7 linked regions of the Homo sapiens genome follow. The protein of the gene in region 7 purifies or fractionates together with the protein of the main gene of each other region. This does not show direct contact. Each region holds a gene or a part of one and is shown on either strand. Other genes may lie near its edges. The genes, in order: NUP133, WDFY3, ABHD17B, BRAT1, ITPRIP, NPEPPS and SLC67A1.

The links.
Region 1: the proteins of SLC67A1 (region 7) and NUP133 purify together in Homo sapiens (affinity purification with mass spectrometry; one large-scale study listed by BioGRID and IntAct). This does not show direct contact.
Region 2: the proteins of SLC67A1 (region 7) and WDFY3 purify together in Homo sapiens (affinity purification with mass spectrometry; one large-scale study listed by BioGRID and IntAct). This does not show direct contact.
Region 3: the proteins of SLC67A1 (region 7) and ABHD17B purify together in Homo sapiens (affinity purification with mass spectrometry; one large-scale study listed by BioGRID and IntAct). This does not show direct contact.
Region 4: the proteins of SLC67A1 (region 7) and BRAT1 purify together in Homo sapiens (affinity purification with mass spectrometry; one large-scale study listed by BioGRID and IntAct). This does not show direct contact.
Region 5: the proteins of SLC67A1 (region 7) and ITPRIP purify together in Homo sapiens (affinity purification with mass spectrometry; one large-scale study listed by BioGRID and IntAct). This does not show direct contact.
Region 6: the proteins of SLC67A1 (region 7) and NPEPPS purify together in Homo sapiens (affinity purification with mass spectrometry; one large-scale study listed by BioGRID and IntAct). This does not show direct contact.

The regions. Positions count from the first base shown.
Region 1 is NC_000001.11:229,466,842-229,470,341, forward strand, and holds part of NUP133 (nuclear pore complex protein Nup133), read right to left. Parts: intron 1-3,500. UniProt on the Homo sapiens protein: Involved in poly(A)+ RNA transport. Involved in nephrogenesis.
Region 2 is NC_000004.12:84,732,691-84,736,190, forward strand, and holds part of WDFY3 (WD repeat and FYVE domain-containing protein 3), read right to left. Parts: coding exon 3,480-3,500; intron 2,431-3,479; coding exon 2,353-2,430; intron 988-2,352; coding exon of another isoform or gene 985-987; exon of another isoform or gene 969-984; intron 920-968; coding exon 692-919; intron 1-691. UniProt on the Homo sapiens protein: Required for selective macroautophagy (aggrephagy). Acts as an adapter protein by linking specific proteins destined for degradation to the core autophagic machinery members, such as the ATG5-ATG12-ATG16L E3-like ligase, SQSTM1 and LC3.
Region 3 is NC_000009.12:71,876,694-71,880,193, forward strand, and holds part of ABHD17B (alpha/beta hydrolase domain-containing protein 17B), read right to left. Parts: intron 1-3,500. UniProt on the Homo sapiens protein: Hydrolyzes fatty acids from S-acylated cysteine residues in proteins. Has depalmitoylating activity towards DLG4/PSD95. Has depalmitoylating activity towards GAP43. Has depalmitoylating activity towards MAP6. Has depalmitoylating activity towards NRAS.
Region 4 is NC_000007.14:2,545,525-2,549,024, forward strand, and holds part of BRAT1 (integrator complex assembly factor BRAT1), read right to left. Parts: intron 1,955-3,500; coding exon 1,800-1,954; intron 1-1,799. UniProt on the Homo sapiens protein: Component of a multiprotein complex required for the assembly of the RNA endonuclease module of the integrator complex.
Region 5 is NC_000010.11:104,309,200-104,311,832, forward strand, and holds the end of ITPRIP (inositol 1,4,5-trisphosphate receptor-interacting protein precursor), read right to left. Parts: 3' UTR 501-2,633; downstream 1-500. UniProt on the Homo sapiens protein: Enhances Ca(2+)-mediated inhibition of inositol 1,4,5-triphosphate receptor (ITPR) Ca(2+) release.
Region 6 is NC_000017.11:47,590,108-47,593,607, reverse strand, and holds part of NPEPPS (puromycin-sensitive aminopeptidase), read right to left. Parts: intron 2,892-3,500; coding exon 2,727-2,891; intron 1,705-2,726; exon of another isoform or gene 1,653-1,704; coding exon 1,548-1,652; intron 1,124-1,547; coding exon 1,063-1,123; intron 1-1,062. UniProt on the Homo sapiens protein: Aminopeptidase with broad substrate specificity for several peptides. Involved in proteolytic events essential for cell growth and viability. May act as regulator of neuropeptide activity.
Region 7 is NC_000011.10:2,922,512-2,925,746, reverse strand, and holds the end of SLC67A1 (solute carrier family 67 member A1), read right to left. Parts: coding exon 3,191-3,235; intron 738-3,190; coding exon 550-737; 3' UTR 501-549; downstream 1-500. UniProt on the Homo sapiens protein: May act as a transporter of organic cations based on a proton efflux antiport mechanism. May play a role in the transport of chloroquine and quinidine-related compounds in kidney. Plays a role in the regulation of lipid metabolism.

The sequences.
Region 1 (3,500 bases), on a different chromosome or scaffold from region 7:
CATATCCTCAGACCTATAGATGGAGGAAAATTTATTGGCAGTTGATGGTAAAAATAAATTCAAAAATCAAGAAAAGTCACATCTCCTAACTTTTAAAAGTCAGAGTGCCCAAATAAGTCTTATAAACAGGCAAATTCTGGATTGTTACTGAGATTTTTAAGCGATGATATTTTTTATTATAGCTACTCTGCTCAGTGCATCTTTAAATAGCACTAGGTTACAGATGACATCACTTTACAATGTAATACCCCAAACTAATGAACTAATAGACTAAAATAATGACCTCAAAAAGTGAACTTGCTAATTTCTTTCTTTGAGGAATTCCCCTTCTTCAGACATAACAGAAACATTTGTAGAACAGAAGTAAGCAACATAAGAGAATGAACTAAATACATAACTTCTAACTCTTCCTTTGTCATTAATTAATACATGGAGATAACAGTGCAAAAATACCATCAGGCACTGAAACTCCTGTTTCAAGTTCAAGTCTGCACTTAAGCTTTCCCCCCATTATTTAGAGTTTGCATAGCAATGGACACTCAGAGATAAGAGGAAAGAAAAATCAGATTAGCTGCCCTCAAGGACCTCACAAACTGGCTGAAGGAACAAGTTATATAGGCACAGATAAAACATGACCCAAACAAAATCCCTCCCTTTTGCAAACCTTGTTCTTCCTTTTGCATTTCTGATGTTAGCCAAAGGCATCCTAACAGCCCAGGCAAGAAATCTTTAGCACATTTAATTTATAAGCTTAAGTGTAAGAATATTTTACATTGTTAACATGAAAAACACAATGAAAGCCTATATAATGGCCGGGTGCGGTGGCTCATGCCTGCAATCCCAGCACTTTGGAGGTGGGTGGATCACAAGGTCAAGAGATCAAGACCATCCTGGAAAACATGGTGAAACCCTGTCTCCACTAAAAATACAAAAATTAGCTGGGCGTCGTGGCGTGCACCTGGAGTCCCGGCTACTTGGGAGGCTGAGGCAGGAGAATTGCTTGAACCAAGGAGGCCGAGGCTGCGGTGAGCAGAGATTGTGTCACTGCACTCCAGCCTGGCGACAGAGCAAGACTCAGTCTCAAAAAAAAAAAAAAAGGAAAGCATATATAATATAAAAGACAGAAAATAACATAAAAGCACATAAAATGCCAAAACACTTGTTAAATTCTCTTATCATGTATATATTCAGTGATTTCAAATATTGCTCATATGCCGTGTCAACATAGTCTGTTCCTTAAGCAGTGAGCTCTGCTTTTCCAGAGCCCTGGGAGGTACAAGGCCTTCCCAAACTGGAGACAGAGTCAAAGTGGAGAGCGCACCCTCAGGCAGCTCTGTATTGTTTTACTTTCTATCAGGGCTGCCAAGTCAAAATATCGTTCTATATGGCCCACCAATCAGAGATTGATTTTGGTTAACCAGCTCGTCCCAAAACACAAATACTCCTTAGACAGGTAACTTGTCACCCCCAAGTGGAAGGACAGGTAAAAAGAAAGAAAAACTACTATATGCATATAGCTATTGTATTCTCTTTTCATGATCATTATGACACGGGAGAAAACCTTTATAACTACACCCCAGAGAAGCTAAAGACCAACGAACATCATGAGAAATGAAGATAAATAGTGACAGGAACAGTCCTAAACATTACCATTTTTCATATGGAACATTCTTTTGAGGAGCCAATCACATTTTTAGTTTTGCTGTATCATATTCCTAAAATATTATTCTATATGTATCCAACTGATAATTTCCAGACCCTTCTCCAATAATTCAGCTAACTGAAACATGTACATACACTAAATTGACACTTATACTTTGCCCTTTGATCCAAATGCAGAATAATGAACCAGGCTCTTGCTCAGTTCTTACAAGTAGTCTGTAATTAATTTTAAAAAATTGTCTTATCATATAAAATTATATATGAATAAAGACCAAAAAGGACACAAAAATGACAACAACTTGATTTGTTAGATCATGAAACTTGAGGTGATTTGTTTTTCTTTCAGATTTCTGGCATACTGTCTAGATTAAAAACAAAACATAACAAAGTGCTTTTCCTTCCATTCCCCAGGAACTAACCCAAATGCATAAAAGCAAAGAATTCACACTAAACACATTTATGGAATCAACAGGAAGACTGAATTTAGGTTATAGTACATCAAACTTAGGTTACAGTACATCAAACATTAAGAAAAAGAGACTTGTCGGCACAGTGTGCTACATGTTAGAATACAGCTAGGCTATAGGAGGAAGGAAGCAAAATTTGAGACACCAAATAGAGTTTGAAGTTCCTCAAATGCATAAGGAATTCCAAATTTCACAGAGCTCAGGGAAGAGCTGGCCCTGTTTCTAAAACCAGATAGTTCTGCAGTCTCAGTTAAGACAACAGGTCTAAGTTCTAATGTCACACCTTTAAAGGGAGACAGCGAAGTCTGCCTTGCTGCCTCATCAGGCTGTGAAGCTTCACAAAAGCACGAGGACTGCGTCACTATTTCCACAATGTCCAGCTGCCACTGGCTGCCCAGCATCTTAACCATTTCTGTCTTTGAAGTTTGTAGCAGACTTTACTTTTTCTCTGAAAATAAATCTGATTCTACAAGCAAGGTGTAGCAACAGGATCCTAGGAGGTAGCTGAGGAGTTCAGTGAAGGTACTGTTTGCAAAGGTGTGGGCAAGATTAAGGGGTCCAAAAAGGGATGGGGCAGCACCCTAGGATGAGGCATTATCAACCTCAGGCCTGAAGAGGCACAAGGAGGGGGCAGCTACTGGAAACACAGAGAAAGCAGTTGGACAGGAGGCACAGTCCCTGACAGAGGGGCACAGCCAATGTAAAGTGCGCACAGGCAAGGAAGAAAGCTGGCAGAATAACTACTCCAACTTCTGGCCTTATGGCAGGGCCTCACATTCATCTGACCTGGCAGAAGCCGGAGGGCAAGGGAGCCCATTCAGGAAGGCCACCTTGCTGTGGCAGAGTCAAGAGTAGATCTGCCTGGCCAACAAGGGTGAAACCAGGTCTCTACTAAAAATACAAAAATTAGCTGGGCATGGTGGCACATGCCTGTAGTCCCAGCTACTTGGGAGGCTGAGGCAGGAGAATTGCTTGAAGCCAGGAGGCAGAGGTTGCAGTGAGCCGACATTGCACTGTTGCACTCCAGCCTGGCAACAGAGCAAGACTTAGTGCCCCCTGCCCCCAGAAAAAAGAGTAGATCGAGAGAGACAAAGGAGAAGATCAGGATGGATGCAGTAGCTCACGCCTGTAATCCCAGCACTTTGGGAGGCTGAGGCGAGTGGATCACCTGAGGTCAGGAGTTCGACATCAAACCCCATCTCTACTAAAAATATGAAAATTAGCCGGGGTGGTGGCTAGCACCTGTAATCCCAGCTACTCGGGAGGCTGAGGTAGGAGAATCACTGGAACCCGGGCAACAGAGTGAGACTCCATCTCAAAAAAAAAAAAAAAGAAGATCAGCATGCAAAGCAAATAGGTACTTGGAGACAG
Region 2 (3,500 bases), on a different chromosome or scaffold from region 7:
TACAAATGACAGGCTTTCCTTATTTTTTTAAGGCTGAATACTATTCCATTATGTATACACAGCATATTTTCTTTATCTATTACTCTGCTGATAGACACTTAAGTTGATGCTAAGCTCTATATTAGCATCAGGACTGGGGTTAAACCAATCAGTACAAGATAAATGGAGCCAGGGTGTTTGTCAGAGAAAAACAAGAGGCATTGGAACAATTCAAGCTGCCTCACCTTATATGATCAGAGCTACTTAGAAGATTCATGTGTTCTAATATACAGTGCTTATTCTGGACCAGACACTATTCTAAGTACTTAACTAATTTTAATGAACTAAATCCTCCTAACAGTCCTACGAGGTGGAACTATTATTTGCTCCAATTCAGGCATAATAAAATGAAAACTCAGAGAGGTTTAATGACCCATAACCCAGCTATAATAGCAAAGTGGCAGAGTCAGGTCTTAAATTTGGGCAGTCTGGCTCTGGAGTCTGTAATCTAAACCTCTTTATTATGATGTCTCCTTCTTGCACTGTTGCATCTTTTCACTCCACCTCCACTCTGAAGTTATCAATTTAATAGCGTATGTTGAATTTTTAAAATTAGCTATTTGAGGTAATTGACTAAATAGAGAAAAAACGCTTACAGAGGAAAATAAAAACTTGAAAGAGCCATTGTGATCATTGAATTCTGCATACTCACCGCCACATTTGTCTCTTGCTCAGTTTCTGGCACGTAAGGGTAATGGTTATAAAACATATCATTTCGCACCATCTTTTTCCTCATCCTGCAGGGCCCTTCTGTCATCTCCAGCATCCACTTGTCGAGGTGGGAGCCGATGGGAGGGCCCCACAGCCCCCGCTCCCTCAACAGCTCGCACTCGATCTGACACCACTCTTCTGTCACGTACTTCAGGGCATTCTGCTGACGCTGACAGGAAAGAGTCCAGGTCGGTTTTCAAGCAAAAGCAGGAGTAACAGTAACAAGTCTACAAGTCACTGAAAATCAAGTTATTATTTGGAAACAAACACAATCCACACCATTTCAGTTAACATTATAAAAGTAAAATTACATTTGTTTATGGTTAAAGTAAGAGGTTTTGTTGTAGAAGGTGGACTTCTTAAAGCATCAAGTAAATGACAGACATGGATAGGGTAGAGTGTGCAATATAGTGAAACAGAGAGTTGAAAGAAGTTTGTTTCTCTGGCACAGGAAAGATGGTAATATTACTATGAATTATATTGAAATGGTTAGCCCTATGTGCGTTAATAAATATATATGGTAATTTAAGGATACACCAAACTGTAAAATAGCTACCACAACATGTACGGGGGATATTCTAGGAAGTCAGATGAAGAAAAAGTGCCAACAGGCTTGATTACTGGTGAACTAGGTAAACATTTCCAAAGATTTTAGATGAAGAATATAAACATGCAGCACTAAGAGGAAACTTGATGTTCATACAAAAATCAAAGAGAAACCATTTTCTTCTGGCCACTGGGATAGATCCAAACCATTTTTTAAATGGAAATTATGACACAGTACAAGTTCTTATCTATCAAATGACAAATATATAACATTTCAACAGTAGACAGTGACAAATAACTTGCCCAATGATTCATGGAATATAAGTATATACAATTTAAATCTAAAAATAAAGATTTCTAAAATATAACTGACAGTAAAGATTACTGAGTGAACAATTAAAAAATTATCTATCACAGTAGTACTGATATGTTCTTTGGTTGGGGAAACTAAGGATCTAGTGTTATATCCGTAAAATATTAGCAGTTAACCATTCAGAAACCTTTAATAGATCCAAAATAGCTAATCTGAGAATAAAATATTTAAGATAAGCTTTTGAGTAATTATGAATTTACCAAGAGAATTTCAATAAATTTATTTTTCACTGACATAATCACCAAGCACTTGTAGTATAGTAAAAAATAATTTCATTCAATCTTGTAATTTTTTACAATTTTAAGAGACTTCTCAGAGACTTGGATGCGTATTTTCACAATCTCCTTGTTAAAAGCCTGAAAAAGAAGGCTCATTCTTACATTTTTATTTTTATTAGGAACAAAGACATGTAACATATCAGTAGTGAATGTCAACAGAATTCAGCTGGGCTCATTTTCAGTTAGTTGCTTTTTGAAATGCAGTTTGTTGACAGAAGATTAAAATTTTCCATCCTAAAATCAGTAGCCAAAGTAGCTGATGGCAGGAATAATTAAAACCATCATCTGATGACGAATGCAGTCCAGCAAGTACCTTAAAATGGGCAGAAAGATACCAGGACAAACAGAGACCTTTCACATACAAAAAATGTAAAACAAACCATTATGATGATTATAAGTCCTTACCTCCTGATATTCTTTATATTGTGTATCTACTAAGTCACGAACAACAGCAATGTGAGTAAACATCCACTGCGAAATCTCCTAACAATGGATGGAAAAAGAGTCTTAATATTTCATGGATTTCTGGAAAAAAATAGTTAATTACCCTTGAAATTAATGCTAAATAATTGGTTAAAATTCTGCCAAAAGCACCAAAACAGAAAACTAAAACAAAAAATTCAGAATGAATTATATGCTTGTGTGATGGACACAGATCTGCATGCTCTCCCACCCCCAAAGCCCCTTCAAGGAAGGGCTTGCTGCCCACGTGTCTGGGCTGCTCTCAACACCCTCAGGGATGGCCTTAGCTGCAGAGGGCCGACGGGGTGCCCCACATCCAACGATCTAGGGGTAAGAAGACTCACACATTTCAGCTTAATGGAGGTCAATTATAAGAGGGTATTCTGTCCTCAAAGCTCCACTTAGCTTGGCTGAGGCTGTCACTAGACCAGCACTGCAGCCTGACTTTTCCCTATGTCCAATCCTGCTTTCTTCTCCCTTCCACAGGTATTGATCCCAAGGGCACCCCCTAATATACATTATGCACACTAAACTCCATCTCAGAGTTTGCTTCCTAGAAAACCTAACCTGATGCATGAGATGGCTGACACATACTATTTCTCTCAGATCCTTTTCATAGCTGCCACTTAGATTCTGGGATGGTGAAGGAAGTAGGATGAGGAAGAAGTTAATGCTGGAGGCAGATGAGCTTTTAAAAAACCATAGGTATACACAACAAGATTGTAAAAATTAAAAAAGGCTTGTTTGGCTATTGCCTTAAAATTTATATAATTATTAGTAATAACATTATTGAAAGCTGGGAAAATTGAGAGAAAATTATCTATAGTCTGATCATACATTAATCTCTAAATCTCATCTTATATCCAGTTATAAAATGGGTATAAGTAAATAGCACTCATATATAGTTTTATCATAAGAAAATGAGAGAAATTCCCATAGTCTGGATTACTTCTATCTCTATTCTAAAGCAAAAATACAGAAAAGTTTCATTTCCAATCAATTGCTTGTACATGTTAAGTATATTATACAAAATACTACAACTAATATCAGCAATGAAACTAAAAAAGTACCTGGGTGGAAAGACTGTGTTT
Region 3 (3,500 bases), on a different chromosome or scaffold from region 7:
GACTAAATGGTTGAGAATATCTGGGGGAAAAAATGCCCTTTTCACTCAATACAGAATCAAATATATCCTATAATGCTCAGTATAAATGTGTTTATAAGAAGCAGCAGAAAAAAGCACAGGAAGAGAGGAACAAGGGTAGGTATAACATAAAAGACTTCAAAAGGTGAGGGAAGGGCAGAAAAACATCTTGGATATTAGGAAATGCTTTAATTGCTTCCTACCTTTATTTCTTTTTAGGCTTCAAAATACAGCCTGAATAAGTTAATGGCTTACTCTGGTTGGAACAAGAAATAGGACAGAAATAACAACTAAGTGTCATCTGCTAACTTTAACTGAGGGCTTCCTGAAGTGTTGTGCTGAGAATGATTCTAAGGCATACACAGGGCTTAGCCAGCAAAAGATGTGATAAATTAGTGATGTTTACTATAGACTCTGGCTACAAATTTACTATCCTGGTCAGGAGGATAAAGTGTCTGTTGAAGAAGATGAAAGGGAAGGAACTCAAAGGATCTGTTCCAGAGGAGGAAATGACCTGCAGAAAGATGATGAGGTACAAGGTATAATATCAGTGCTGTCTGTTTAATATCTGTCTATGGTTATTTGTCAACCCTGATTACCTCATATACCATTGACTGCTGAGCCACAATAGCCTTTTAAAAAGCTTAATAAGTAAATGGTACGTATCTAGACTATAGTCCTATAATTTATCTCTTAGCCAGAAACACTTTTGTTGTTGTTTTTCGAGACGAAGTCTCACTCTATCGCCCAGGCTGGAGTGCAGTGGTGCGATCTTGGCTCACTGCAACCTCCGCCTCCCACATTCAAGTGATTCTCCTGCCTCAGCCTCCCCAGTAGCTGGGATTACAGGCACACACCACCATGCCCAGCTAATTTTTGTATTTTTAGTAGAGATGGGGTTTCATGATGTTGGCCAGGCTAGTCTCGAACTCCTGACCTCAAATGATCTGCCTGCCTTGGCCTCCCAAACTGCTGGGATTACAGGCATGAGCCACCGCACCCAGCAGAAAAACTTTCATACACTATAATAAACTACTTTTGAAATAAAGCTGGCTGGTTGAACATATATAATGCTGTGAAGAAGTTTCTGGGGATGAACACCAAAGGAGAGAAGCAGAAAGGAGAAAAACTGCAGTGCCAGGGTCTAGTTTAATGACAACTTCACTTCCTTAATGCTGACAGAATGACTCCCCTCTTCCACTGCCCAAAAGCCAGATAACTGGGGCTTATTTAATGACAACAACTTGCAAATGATCACTTTCCTAATAAGAGGCCTGGTATAGGGCAGCAACACAGACCTACTTTCAAAAGTTAATTGAATACTTTTTAAGTCTGAAAAATTTCACAAAAACTATAAACAAAACAAATAAATCTAGGTTTTAGTATAGTGTGAGCAAGTTACTGAAGAAAAACATTTTATTCTGTAAAAAAAAAAAAAAATCACTGAAATAGCTTGTTAAACTTAGATAATTTCAAGTCCAACTTGTTCTTATAAAACTCATGCCAGACGCAGTGGATTGCTTGAGCAGTTAACAGTTGAAAAACACATCAGTGAGCTAAAAGATCAGGTTGAGTAATTTGCAAATATGGAATTTTTTTGTGGGAATTAAGAGACAGAAAACAACAAAATTTAATAGATAGAAATAGAAGTAGAAATATCACTATCCATACTATAGAAGTTCCAGGAGAAAATAAAGATAAGACTATTTAAGAATTTCTCAGAATTAAAGGGGGAAAAAAAGTCAGATTGAAACACCTCAAAGTGTACCAAAAAACAACAAACTACTTAAAAATGAACAAGATCAGATGAACATATGACTTTCTAATATAAACACTGGAAGCCAAAAGACAATGGAGAGATAATTTTAAGCTAAAGATGAAATCAAACTTTTAACCTAGAATTGTACATAGAACAAAAATACAGTTTTAATATAAGGATAAAGGTATCTGGGCTGGGTGTGGTGGCTCACTCCTGTAATCCCAGCACTTTGGGAGGCCAAGATGGGAGGACCACTTAAGCAACATAGGAAAACATTGTCTCTATCAAAAAAAACAAAGAGAGAGAGAGATCTGCAGGCCCACAAAAACTCGTAAGACTTAACCAAATCAAGTCTCTCTTTGAAAAACTCCAGCAAGGAGGGAAGGAGATAAATCCAAGGGAAGGCCAGGCACAGTGGCTCACACCTATAATCCCAACACTTTGGGAGGCCGAGGTAGGAGGATTGCTTGAGCCCAGGAATTGAAAACCAGCCTGAGCACCATGGCAAAACTCCATCTCTATAAAAAATACAAAAATTAGCTGGGCATGGTAGTGTGTGCCTGTAATCTCAGCCACTGGCGTGGCTGGAGTGGGAGGACTGCTGGAGCATGGGAGGTCAAGGCTACAGCGAGCTGTGATAGAGCCACTACACTCCAGCCTGGGCTACAGAGTGAGAGCCTGTCTCAACAATAACAACAAAACAAACAAAAACCCCCCAAATCCCAAGGGACTTCTATGAGATATCTGAGATATGAGAAATAAAGGAGAATAGTTAATACAATGTTTTTTGTACAAGTGAGCAATGGGAGCAAGGAGGGTGAAGACAACAAAGTATATCCCTAAAAATCCAGAACAAAAACTTTGGTGAATATGAATACGAAGAGGATTGACAAAAGAGAGACTACTTAAGAGGTAAAAATGTGCTGGGGTACCTGACTTGTTGAGGATGCTACTGATACTGATAAGCTTAAGACATAGAAGAAAAGCCTGAATATAAGCATGACTCTTAATAAGTCAGATATAATCATCAGAAAAATGATAGTGCAGGGCACATCTAAAGGAGTTACAATTATCCATTACAAAAGTCTAGCTTTAAATATTAGTGTCCAACTTAAGAAGAGAGTAAACAAAAAGAAAACAAGAAAAAGAAAATTAAGAGCAGATATCAACAAAACAAAGAACAAAAAGCAATGGAGAACCAACAGCTGATTTCAGAAAAGGCTTCCACTACTACTAATAGCAAATAGCATTAACTGAACACTTACAAAGTGTCAGGCACTATTCTAAACACTTTTCACATATTAACTAATCCTTTCAACAATCCTCTGCTTTAGGGACTATTATTACACCCATTTTGCAATTGAGAAAACAGAGGCATAGAATAGTTACATAAGTTGCCTAATGTCACAAATCTGATCAATGGAACTGATACATGACAGAATGACTCTGTAACCCAAACTCATAACTACTGTTTTGTGGAAAGGGTACTCAGACAAGACTGATCACAAGAAAGAGATAAGCAAAATAAACGAAATAATGTACTAAAGGAAAAAGGACTTTGAGCTACAGACATAGTTTCTAGAAATGAAAGAATATCATGTGTCAATAAATAACCTAGACAAAACTCACGCACTTCTTGAGTAATATAAAAGGACAAAATTGGCACAAAGGCTAGAATATGCAAATAACCATCAGAACTTCAAAGGGAAATCAAAGACCACCT
Region 4 (3,500 bases), on a different chromosome or scaffold from region 7:
CTGTTGCCTAGGCTGGAGTGCAGTGGCACATCTCGGCTCACTGCAACCTCTGCCTCCTGGGCTCAAGCTATTTTCCTGTCTCAGCCTCCTGAGTAGCTGGCATTACAGGTGCCCACCACCACACCCAGCTAATTTTTTCATTTTTAGTAGAGACAGGGCTTTACCATGTTGGTTAGCCTGGTCTCGAACTCCTGACCTCAGGTGATCCGCCTGCCTCAGCCTCCCAAAGTGCTGGGATTATAGGCATGAGCCACCGTGCCCAGCCTGGAGGGTACTTTCATACCAGCTGCTGACAGACAAGGGCCCCCGGATTCACTGTACGGCAGCACCCTAGGACACCTTGGAAAGTCTGTCCTGCAGCAAGATGGTGCCTGGGTGGGCTGCTAGGGAGCCTGCAGCTGCTTAACTGGGGGGCATCGTGAACGGCAAGCTAACGGTACTGGATGTGCCTTCGCACAACCTGGCGAGGGCCTGTGAGGCACCAAGAGAAGCCGTCGTGGTAGACGGGCAAGGGCCCTGAAGCTCACACCACGCATCCCGACAGACTCAGCGGTGCCTGTCTGAGGCACTTGAAGCTGGAAGACACAGCTCTGGGAGGCTCTCGAGCTCTCATGCCTTGCTATGTAGAAATTCTTGGCTGGGAGCAGTGGCTCACGACTGTATCCCAACACTTTGGGAGGCCGAGGCAGGATGATCGCTTGAGACCAGGAGTTTGAGACCAGCCTGGGCAACATAGTGAGACCCCATCTCTACCAAAGATAACAAAGTTAGCCAGGTGTGGTTCATGCACCTGTGGACCCAGCTACTCGGGAAGCTGAATGGGGAGGGTCACTTGAGCCCAGGAGGTCAAGGCTGCAGTGAGCTGCCACTGCACTCCAGCCTGGACGACAGAGCAGGACTCTGTCTCTAAAAAACAAAACAAAAAAAGGCCGGGTATGGTGGCTCACGCCTGTAATCCTAGCATTTTGGGAGGCCGAGGCAGACGGATCACTTGAGGTCAAGGAGTTCGTGATCAGCCTGGCCAAAATGGTGAAATCCTGTCTCTACTAAAACTACAAAAATTAGCTGGGCGTGGTGGCAGGTGCCTGTAGTCCCAGATACTCGGGAGGCTGAGGCAGGAGAATCGCTTGAACCTGGGAGGTGGAGACTGCAGTTAGCTGAGTTCGAACCATTGCACTCCAGCCTGGGTGACAGAGCAAGACTCTGTCTCGAAAAATAATAATAAAATAAAATAAAAATAAATAAAATTAATTTTTTAAAAAAAAGACATTCTCATTAGTCATTCACATTCTCATTAGTTATTCATTCATTTGTAGGCTGGGTCGCTGGAGGTGCAGGATGTGCGGTCTCATTTGGTCCTCACGACAACCCCACGGCGCAGCTACGACTCCTGTCTCCGTCCCAGGAAGAGACGGGGGCCACGGGGCAGCTACGACTCCTGTCTCCGTCCCAGGAAGAGACGGAGGCCACGGCGCAGCTGCGACTCCTGTCTCCGTCCCAGGAAGAGATGGAGGCTTGCGGCCGTGGGCAAGCTCAGACAGCTGGTCAGAGCTGGGAGCCCGTGCCAGTCATCTTATTCCAAAAAACCTCAACTCCTTAGCCCCAGCATCACTCCGGGCGAATTTTTCAAAGGGGGCTACAGTCGGGGGTAAAAAACATGCAGTTCTAGTGAGGACACAGGGTCGGGGCAGGCCGCTGGGACTTGGGATGGTGATGGCTACAAATGCCCCACCTGGCTGCGGGAGGAAAAGCCTGCCCACCTCTCCACGGGACACTCAGGTGGGAGGCCCCAGGCTCACCTGAAGATACTGGAAGCAGTTTTCCTGGGCTGCGAAGGTTCCTGCCAGGCGCAGTGAGAAGGAGAGGACCCCAGAACTCAGGTCCTGGACTTTCAGCACATGGGACAGCAGCTCCACCAGGCAGGGGTGCTCCTGCAGCAGCACGACACTGGACTCTGTGGGGATGGCCCAGCCCAGGGGTCACCAGGGGTACGGCACCAGGTGTCCCCCTGGATGACCGCTCTTCTCCTAGCAATTCCCAGACCCTTTTCTTGCAGGGTGTTAGATTTAGGGATCCAACTGGGAAAAAAATATCTGCAACAAATACGGCAAATGACTCATAATTTTAATTCAGTAAGGGCTAGAAAGCCAACACCTTAACAACAGGTGAAAGGCGGAACACTGTCACCTTTCACAACAGGTGAATGGCCAAAAATGCTGAAAAAATGTTCTGTCTCACTGATAGTGAAAAAGAAATGCAAATTAAAGTGAAAGACCAGGCTGGGCGTGGTGGCTCACGCCTGTAATCCCAACACGTTAGGAGGCCAAGGCGGGTGGTCACTTGAGCTCAGGAGTTCGAGACCAGCCTGGCCAACATGGCGAAGTCCCATCTCTACTAAAAATACAAAAAATTAGCCAGGTGTGGTGGCTCATGCCTGTAGTCCCAGCTAATTGGAAGGCTGAGGCAGGAGAATCGCTTGAACCTGGGAGGCAGAGGCTGCAGTGAGCCAAGACCACGTCATTGCACACGGCACACTCCAGCCCTGGGCGACAGAGCGAGACTCCATTCCAAAAAAAAAAAAAAAAAAAAGTGGAAGAGCATTTTCACCTTCCAAATGGGTACTTTTCCTTAGACAGTGCTCCATGCAAGCAGGTACAATGGAACAAACATTCCTCTCCAGAACTGGCATCCTGTATTTCTATAACCAGCTATGCTATCGCTCAAAAGCACCAGTGGGGGAAAAAGACATTTTGAGGCAAAGGTTGGGAGAGTTTCCCAGTGAGAAGCCCCTGTGGAAAGAATGTGGTTCAGTAAGGAGAGTGAGGAGCATGCAGAGGAGGAGAACCAGGCCAGGACCCAAAAAGCACTATGTCCACCTGAATCAGCACTGCAGGCTGGGTGAGGTGCTCATACCTGTAGTCCCAGCACTTTGGGAGGCCAAGGCAGGAGAACAACATAGCAAGACCCTGTCTCTACAAAAAATAAAAAAAAATTAGCCCGGCATGGTGGCACACATCTGCAGTCCCAGCTACTCAGGAGGCTGAGACGGGAGGATTGCTTGAGCCCAGGAGTTCGAGGCTGCAGCAAGCTATCACTGCACCACTGTACTCCAGCCTGGGCGACAGAGGGAGACCCTGTCTCTCTAAAAAAAAAAAAGGCGGGGCGTGGTGGCTCACGCCTGTAATCCCAGCACTTTTGAAGGCCAAGGCAGGCAGATCACGAGGTCAGGAGATTGAGACCATCCTGGCAAACATGGTGAATGAAACCCTGTCTCTACTAAAATATAAAAAATTAGCCAGGCATGGTGGCGGGCGCCTGTGGTCCCAGCTATTTGGGAGGCTGAGGCAGGAGAACTGCTTGAACTCGGGAGGTGGAGGTTGCGGTGAGCCGAGATCGCACCACTGCACTCCAGCCTGGTGACAGGGCAAGACTCTGTCTCAAAAACAAACAAACAAACAAACAAAAAACAATGCCACTGAGTTCAAAATCTAAAAAATCAT
Region 5 (2,633 bases), on a different chromosome or scaffold from region 7:
GTGTTGTTTATAACAGCAAAAAGTGGAGACAACTTAAGTGTTCCTCAGTAGGGAAAGTTGGGTAAATTATGGTACATGCATACAGACAGTGAGATAGTAAGCAGCCATATATATATATATATATATATATATTTTTTTTTTTTTTTTTTGAGACAGGGTCTTACTCACTCTGTCACCCAGGCTGGAGTGCAGTGGAGTGATCACGGCTCGCTGCAGCCTCTGCCTCCCAGGCACAAGCAATCCTCCCACCCCAGCCTCCGGAGTAGCTGGGATTAGAGGTACACGCCACCATGTCTGGCTAATTTATATATTTTTTGTAGAGACAAGGTTTGCCATGTTGCCCAGGCTGGTCTCAAACTCCTGGGCTCAAGCGATTTTCCTGCCTTGGCCTCCCAAAGTGCTGGGATTATAGGTGTGAGCTAATGTACTCGGCCAGTAAGCAGCTAGTTTAAAGAATAAGGTAGAGCCAAATGTTCAAAAAGATAACCAAGAAGAATTAGTCGGTATGATGCCATTTATGTAAAAAAGGACTAAAAGGATGCATATATATATACATACATGTGACACATACACAGAAAAATTTTGGAAGGATACACCAAAAACTTCATATTGGTTATCTCTGGGGAGTGGACTAAGAAGTCAGAAGTGGGACCGTTAGTCTGTTACTTAATTTTCCTGTTAGTACTTGAATTTTAAAATTATGACTGTATTATTGCTTTTATGTTTATTTTTTAAACAACAAACTAGTTAAACAAGCAAGCTATTTTTGGATGGCAATGAGAAAAGTTAACTCTAAAAGATGCCCTTCCCAGGGACAGGGGTGGGGCAAGGCAGAGTGGGGCGGAGAGGGAGGGCCCTGTTGAAGGCACACATTGCCCTTCACTCTGTGACTCTTGGCTCCCTCTGCTTTCGGTCGCTGGCCAAACCAAACAGCCTTCCAGCTCTGTCCCGTGAGGTGGAGATGAGACGGACCACGAAAATGTTCTGAATCACAGCCTTGGGGTGGCTTGAGTTAAGACTTCCTGGACATTCACCAACCACTGCCAGCTGCCACCAACCCTGCTCGGGAAGCCGGCCATGTACCCTACAGCACAGGACATGGATGGCACTGATCACATAGATAAGGACTCCTTAGTTTGGGGGTGAATCAAGTTACTGTCTCACTCAAAACCCGCCAATGGCCCACCTCTGCTTGTTGTGAGGTCCAAATTTACCTTGTATTAGCATTCAAGGCTTTGCATGGTTCAGCCCCACTCTTATCTTTTCAACCTCATTTGCTACGACTTCTCAGTATATGCCAACATGTACACCAGGACTGCCTGGGTTGGAATCTGGGCTGTGCTACTTACCACTGTGACAGTAGGTAAGTCAGTTGCCCCTTCAGTGCCTGTTTCCTTATCTGGAAAGCAGGGAGGATAAGAATAGCACCTACATCATAGGACTGACATGGAACTGTGTGCATTAACAAATGTGTGTGCGGAACGGTGCCTGCCATACAGTAGGTGCTTCCCACCCTCACTCCATGCTTCTGGCTGGAATGTCTTTCCTGGCCACAGTCCTGGTCATTTTTCAGAGTCTCTATCTGGCAGCGCCCCACCATGAGGCCTTCCCTAATCAGCCCAGGTACCAGTGGTTCTTGGACATCCAGAATCAGGTGGGGAACTTGGTGAAGTGCAGATTCTTCTACCTAACTTCTCAGGATCCCACTGGAGTCTGTGACACGGCCCAGGAAGCTGCCCCCAGGTGACACCCGTATGTGTAGTGCAGGGTCACACTTGGAATAGCTCAGTACTTGGAAGGCCACCTTCTGCTGCCTCTCCTAGGGAACAGGCTTGGTCCTATTCATTTTCCCATCTTCCACAATGTCTCATGCACGTTAGGCTCCTGACAAATGCTTGTGGACTATTCATGACCTGCTTGGGAGAAGGGCTCACCATCTTATGCCTTCCCACCCTCTCTCTGAGGCTTACGGCACTAGCGTGAATGTGGGTGCCCTCATGAGAAGCTTGTGGTGTAGCTGATGCCACTTAGACCACAGATTCCAAGCAGGCTCATTGGCTTTTCCCAGGTCTATCTATCTTCCAATAGATCTGTAGGGAAAGTAGTCCACTTGGGTTTTCTTTAACTTTCCATTAAGAAAGAAAGTGAGAGGGCTTCCTCAGCTAGGGGTACCATCAGTCACTTGGGGGAAATCTTTAAAAATCGAGCCTAGCCTGACCACTCCAGACTGGATTCTGAGCACCATGTAGGTTCAAGGCGGGGTCGGGGCAATGGACCAGGTTGTCTGGGTGATTCGGATGACACCCTTGATGATGAACCAGAGCTCCACCCCCAGGTTCTCAACGGGGGCTGTGCTTCAGCCAGGCATGCAGAGGGGCTAGAGCTTTTGAGGATATAAGGCCCTTCCCCAACATAACCAGCCTCTTGGCCTAGGGGCCAACTCTATTCATTTCACCCTTGTTATTTTGCAAAGCAAGTGAGCAGTTGCTGGGGAAAGTCAAGCATCCTTGGGAAAGAGACTCTGGGGAAAGAGGGCAGGGTTGTCCTTAGTGGAAAGGCCAAAGTCCCCTAGAGGACTCAAAATCCTCTATTTAAAATACAATCTCTTTCTTTAAAACCCAAAAGCTTCCTGT
Region 6 (3,500 bases), on a different chromosome or scaffold from region 7:
TGTTGTTAAGCAACACATGACTGTATTCCCTTTATTTTTTATTTTTTTCAGACAGGATCTTGTTCTGTTGCCCAGGCTGGAGTGCAGTGGTGCCATGATTGCTCACTGTAACCTCAAACTCCTGGGCTCAAGTGACCCTTCCCACTTCAGCCTCCTGAGTAGCTGGGACTACAGGCACATACCACCACACCCGGCTAATATTTTTGTATTTTTTGTAGAGGTGGGGTCTCGCTATGTTGCAAGCTGGTCTTGAACTGGGCTCAATCAGTCCGCACATCCTGGCCTCCCAAAGTGCTAGGATTACAGGCGTGAGCCACCACACCCGGCCCAGACTCTTTAAGTTGGCAAAATACTCAGTTATGGAAAGCAGAATGCTGGAGGATGACCAAAGGGATAACGAGTCCTGATTCATGTTGACCCTATGACTTACTGCAGGTTGAGTATCCCTTATCCAAAATGCTTGGGACCAGAAATGTTTTGAATTTCATATTTCTTTTGGATTTTGGAATATTTGCATTATACTTACTAGCTGAGCATCTATAATTGGAATATCCAAAATCTAAAATGTTCCAATGAGCATTTCCTTTGAGCATCATGTTGGCACTCAAAAAGTTTCAGATTTTGGGTGGGAATTGAACAATGAGAACACTTGAACACAGGGCGGGGAACATCACACACCAGGGCCTGTCATGGGGTAGGGGGCTGGGGGAGGGATAGCATTAGGAGAAATACCTAATGTAAATGACGAGTTAATGGGTGCAGCAAACCAACATGGCCCGCACATGTATACTGACGTAACAAACCTGCACATTGTGCACATGCACCCTAGAACTTTAATTAAAAAAAAGAAAGAAAGGAAAGAAAAAGTTTCAGATTCTGGAGCATTTCAAATTTCAGATTTTGAGATTAGAGATATTCAACCTGAACACAGCTTCAAATAAGGCTAATTTATTTATTACATGGATCCTGACCTTAAGTATTCAGAACAAAAATAAAATGTCCCAGCCTGGATAGAGTGACAATACTTTCTCTCCATTTCTATCTCAAGCTATTAGAGATTACCTGTGGCAGCATTCTTTTGTTGGAACTTGGTTAAATACATGTTCATTCCTTTCTTAAAGTCCTGAGAAAACACAATTTTTAAAATCCAGGGAAGTCAGATCTCAGAATTTATAGTATATTTGTATATCAGTAATCAAAAACAAATTTACTCAAATACTCAAGTATCAGATACACTGAAACACATATATCCTTCTGATGCCTACTGCCTTTTATTTAATAATGCGTACTCTATGCCTTCTATTCTTGCTCTTAAGTTTTGTAACAGCCTCCCATTTCCACTCCCAAACACACCTGCACATCACTCATCTAAGAGACCAGAGTAGTCAACTTCAAATAATTGAATTCTCATTCTTTTTGGTCATTAAAAAAAAATGACAAGCCAGAAACTATTTGGGAACTTAATCCAAATAAAGTGAGACTTTTTTTCATGCAAAACTCTTATGATTTCACCATAAAAGAATGAAATATTTAAAGTTTTTTTTTACCTTATCCCCAATGTAGTCATGCAGCATTCGGATGACAGATGCACCTTTGCTATATGATATAGCATCAAATATCTCATCAACCTCAGATGGATGGCCCACACTGACCTGGCAGACAGTGTGATTCAGGGTTATGACAGGAAGCAGATAGCCTGTAATACTGAATTACATAAAACGCTTTCTAGGAAAACCCTTCTAACTTACATTTTTCTGCCTTTAACTCACTCATAATGTATAACGATGGTCCTCAAAAAAATGTAGTAACTAATAATAATAAAGTTGAATAGAACATGATTCCTGTCATCCCTTAGAGCCTGGGTTCCAGTCCTGGCTTTGTTCTGCTGGGAAAGAAGCCACTATGGTTCTGTTTATTTTTGGGGTAGTTGCAGAGGAGTGATGAGGAAGATATGGAGGTGAAGAACATTAGATTTCTTGCACTAATTGTAATGAATTACAATTATATGGGAGCCTAATTAAATATGTTGAAGTAGCATTATAACTCTAGTTCTTTAGATACAAAATTTATATATATAAACTGAAGTAGGGATAGGCTAAGTCAAGAGAATTAAAGTATTCACAAAACAGACCCTGACAATAAAATATGTCCAGAATTTTCCTTGACATAAACAATGGAACCATAGTGTTACCCAATAGGTATGACTTCTCCCATACTATTCTTTTTCTTTTTTTTTGGCAGAGTTTTTTGCTCTTGTTGCCCAGGCTGGAGTGCAATGGCACGATCTCGGCTCACCGCAACCTCTGCCTCCCAGGTTCAAGTGATTCTCCTGCCTCAGCCTCCCGAGTAGCTGGGATTACAGGCATGCGCCACCGTGCCCAGCTAATTTTGTATTTTTAGTAAAGACGGGGTTTCTCCATATTGGTCAGGCTGGTCTCAAACTCCCGACCTCAGGTGATCCACCTGCCTCAGCCTCCCAAAATGCTAGGATTACAGGCATAAGCCACTGCGCCTGGCCAGACCAATTTTTTTTTACTGCCTACCTTAAAAAGAAATGTTAATTAGAACTTAGACTTACTAGCTTTTCAAGACTAGAAATATGAACCAGTAAAATCACCCATGCTATTTTCTCTTATTTTCAAAGTCCAAAGTATCTATGTAACAAATTACGTATTTCATTGTAAATGAGAGCAGTCATAGGCTAATGGTTAGAAAGTATGGCTCACTTCAATAGGATGGCTGTTATCTAAGGCGTCAAGCTCCTGGGCACGGGTGTAATCAGCAGAAACAAACTGAGTCCAAATATCATACTCTGGGAAGCAGTGGTCTACACACAGATATTCAATCCAGGATGCAAAACCTTCATTTAACCAAAGATGAGTCCACCATTCCTAAAAACAAAAGATGAAAATACTTAAAGAAAATGAAATGATTGTCATTCTACTAATCTAAAACACTCACATGTCCCTTCCACTATATTCCCAAACTCACAATTTAATGACCTAAAATTCAGTTCAAAACATTTGGCAAAGAACTCACATTTCTGAAAAAGAGAGAAGACTAAAAGAGATGTCAAGAAAGGCCAACTGGTGATATGAGAATTATATCTGAGGGTCATTTTCTTTTCCTTTCTTTTCTTTTTTTTTTTTTTGAGACAAAGTCTTGTTTTGTCACCAGGCTGGAGTGTTCACCAGTAGCTGGGATTACAGACATGTATCACTATGCCTGCCTAATTTTTGTATTTTTAGTAGAGAGGGGGTTTTGCCATGTTGGCCAGGCTGGTCTGGAACTTCTGAACTCAAGTGATCCACCTGCCTCGGCCTCCCAAAGTGCTAAGATTACAGGTGTGAGCCACCATGCCTGGGCTAAAGGATATTTTCAAAACATTGTAAATAACTTCTCCCGCAAACCCAGACAGGGTCTCATTCTGTTGCCCAGGCTGGAGTGGCAGGGGCACCATCGTAGCTTACTGCAGCCTTGAACTCCTGGGCTCAAGCAAT
Region 7 (3,235 bases):
CCTCCCGAGTAGCTGGGACTATAGGCGTGCACCACCTCACCCAGCTAATTTTTTAAAAAATATTTTTAGAAGAGCCGGGGTTTCACCATGTTGGCCAGGATGGTCTCGATCTCTTGACCTCATGATCCTCCCGCCTCGGCCTCCCAAAGTACTGGGATTACAGGCGTGAGCCACTGCGCCCAGCCAGGTTCCCTGATCTTTTAAAGCAACCTGTTTCTGCTCTTGGGCAGGCACACTGTGGGCGGGAGTTGGGCAGTGAGCTCGCCATTGCTTGGGATGTGAGCAAGAGCTGTTTGTGTGGCAGCAGGGGGACCTCCTCCATGGGCGGACTCAGGGCTGTACTAATAACAGTGAACCAATTTGGGTGGTTCTGTCCTCCCCAGAGCTTTGCCCAGCTGTAGGCGCCCTCCTTGAGGAAGCCCTCCAGCCCGAGGCCCCATCCCTCACTGAAGGACGCAGGCAGACCATGCGTGAGCCTGCAGAAACCAGGCCGGAAGAGGTCGGAGGGATTTAGTAGGAGTTTATTGCCAGTCTGTGTCTGGGCAGCGGTCACCGGACTTTGTCCTTCCTCTGGGGCATAGGTTTCCTCCAGAGGACCAGGAGGACAAGGGTATTGATAGCAACCTGCACGTGGCCGAAGACGGGGACGCCAAAGCTGCGGTACAGGAGGCCGCCGACCGTGGGTCCCAGAGTTCGGAGCAGTGGTTGTACAGAGGCGCAGAGGCCCAGCATGGTCCCTGGGGGGTGCATGGGGGTAGTCAGGCCCTGGGCAGCTCCCTGGGCCAACTGCCCACTTCCTGAACACAGCCATGGCCTCCCATCTCTCCTGACCCACCCTGACCTCACGGCGCAGTCCGCACCTTGCATAGTCTGGTGAAATACTCCCCTGAACACCCATCCTTTCCACCTGCCAGCTTCTAACCTCCAGTCCCCCACCCCCTGCCACCCGCCCAGCCTTTGGAGCAAACACAGCTCTCTCTACCCACTGGTCTGTTCCCCGAGGACCTCTCAGCCATGCAGGGTGCTTCCCAGGGCATTGGGCTGAGTCTCTTCCCTGCTCCAGAAAGTTTCCAAGCACAGGAGGAGCCTGGGAATGGGACCACAGGTCACCGCAGAAGGCCCCGCCCTGCCAGGCCTGCCAAGGGAGATGGCATCTGTGCCTGGGGCCCGGAACCTCCCGCCCAGGCTGTCAGGGAGCTGGCTCTCACGGCTCTTTCCCAGGGTGCCTGCCACCACCGAGGGCTGGTGATGCAGTGGGGAGGCTAAGCCTGGCCTGTGAGACACCGTTGGGGCTTGAGTTCAGAGTGGGCATGACACCCCCATCCCACGGCCCCTCCTGGCCATCAGCCCTTCCTCCAGCCGCCCCACCCTGCGGAGCTCCTACTACTCCATGGAACTCCCCCTCACAGGGCTGGGAGGGGCTTTGGAAGCCCATGCAGGGCCCCTCCACCTGCCCCTCCTGTCCCCAGAGCAAGACCGAGCGGCTTCCGAGGCTCCCCAGACAGCCCCGACCTGCGCAGCAGCCTGCTCTGTCCCTGACACCGCATCTCCACGCCCCTGTGGCCAGCTACCCGCAGCATGGACGGGCACGTGGGCACTATCTGTGGCTGTTGTCAACACTCGGGCAACAAGGGGGGCAGCACTCGCCAAGCGGGAGGACCCCCCAGGACTCCAGGTGGGAGGACACTGCCTCTGGTCCCGTGCCCAGAGGGTCTCTGGCTCCAGGGACTTCAGAGCCCAGGTCTCCTGGAGTTGGAACTCCCAGGGCTGGTCAGCTGTGATGAGGAGCTGGCCAGGCCCCACCTGGGCTCAGGGCCCAGCATGGAGGACCATTAAGAGCAGCCTCTTCTGCAGACTCAGGGTGCAGTTCCTGCCCCTTCTGTCGCTGGGTTTCCAAGCTGCTGCTGGGAACCAGATGCTGGCTCCTACCAGGCCAGGGGTGGTGTCTGCGCATGACGTGGCCCAATGGCCTGGGCCTGGTCTCCCTCAGCCTCCAGGGGCCTCTTCCCAGCCAGGCCGGGTCCTCATCTCCCCAGGCCTTCCTCTCCTGTGCCATCCTCCTGGCCTCTCCAAAGTGCTGCCCAACCTCCTCCAGGAAGCCCTCCTGGCTCAGCCTGCATCAGCCCATGCACCATGGAGTCACAGTCCCCGAAGGCCTTGGAGGTTCCCAGGCAGCCCTGAGAATAGGCCTGCCCTTTGCAGCCCGGCCACATCCGGGCCTCTAGACCTTGGTCTGCTGCCTCCCAGACAGGCAGGTGGATGGAGTGTCAGATGTGTGCCCTGAGTTTCTGGATCTGCTGCCTCCCAGACAGGCAGGTGGATGGAGTGTCAGATGTGTGCCCTGAGTTTCTGGATCTGCTGCCTCCCAGACAGGCAGGTGGATGGAGTGTCAGATGTGTGCCCTGAGTTTCTGGATCTGCTGCCTCCCAGACAGGCAGGTGGATGGAGTGTCAGATGTGTGCCCTGAGCTTTCTGGATCTGCTGCTGGGGAGGCCTGGAAGAATCTCCAGTACTCCAAAGGACTCCTGAGTCCTTTGACCTCAACCAGCCCACAGGAGCCCCCTGCACTGGCCAGTGTGTACCCACACTGTGCCTGGGGTGGGGCAGGAGCCTGGATAACATCGGGCCCAGGACACCCCCAGTCTGCATGAGCGGCTCTCTTCGGCCTCAAGAAAGAAAGCTGGGTCGGAAGTGGGGACTGGGGGAATCTATGTCTAGGGGACCTGTGTCCCCTGCAGTGGCCTAGGGGATTCCTGGATTTAATTACTGGTATGCATTCATTCACTCCCTCATTCATTCAGGAAGCTCCTGAGCACTTGTGTGCCCCACTCCCCGTGCTGGGGGAGGGCCCAGAAGTCCCCGGGGCCTCCAGGCCTGGCAGGCAAAGTCCTCAGGTGCTTCTCAGGGCCAAGCCAACTGCCACCTGCGGGCAGCCCCCTCCCAGGCCCCTGGCCTGCCCCCAGCTGGGCTAGGTGGTAGGGCAGGAGTCTCATGCAAGACCCAGGCTCCCCACCTTACTCATCCCACACAGACCCCAAGCCCCCACCCCACCCACTCCACTCAACCCACACAGACCCCAGGCCCCCCACCCTACCCACCCCACACAGACCCTAGGCTGCCCACCCCATCCCCACCGGGTAGCTCCTAGGGCTTCCTGGAGGAGGCTGCTCCACTCGCTGGCCACACTCACCTGTGTCCGAGGTGGAGACAGCCTTGATCAGCATGCTGTCGGTGA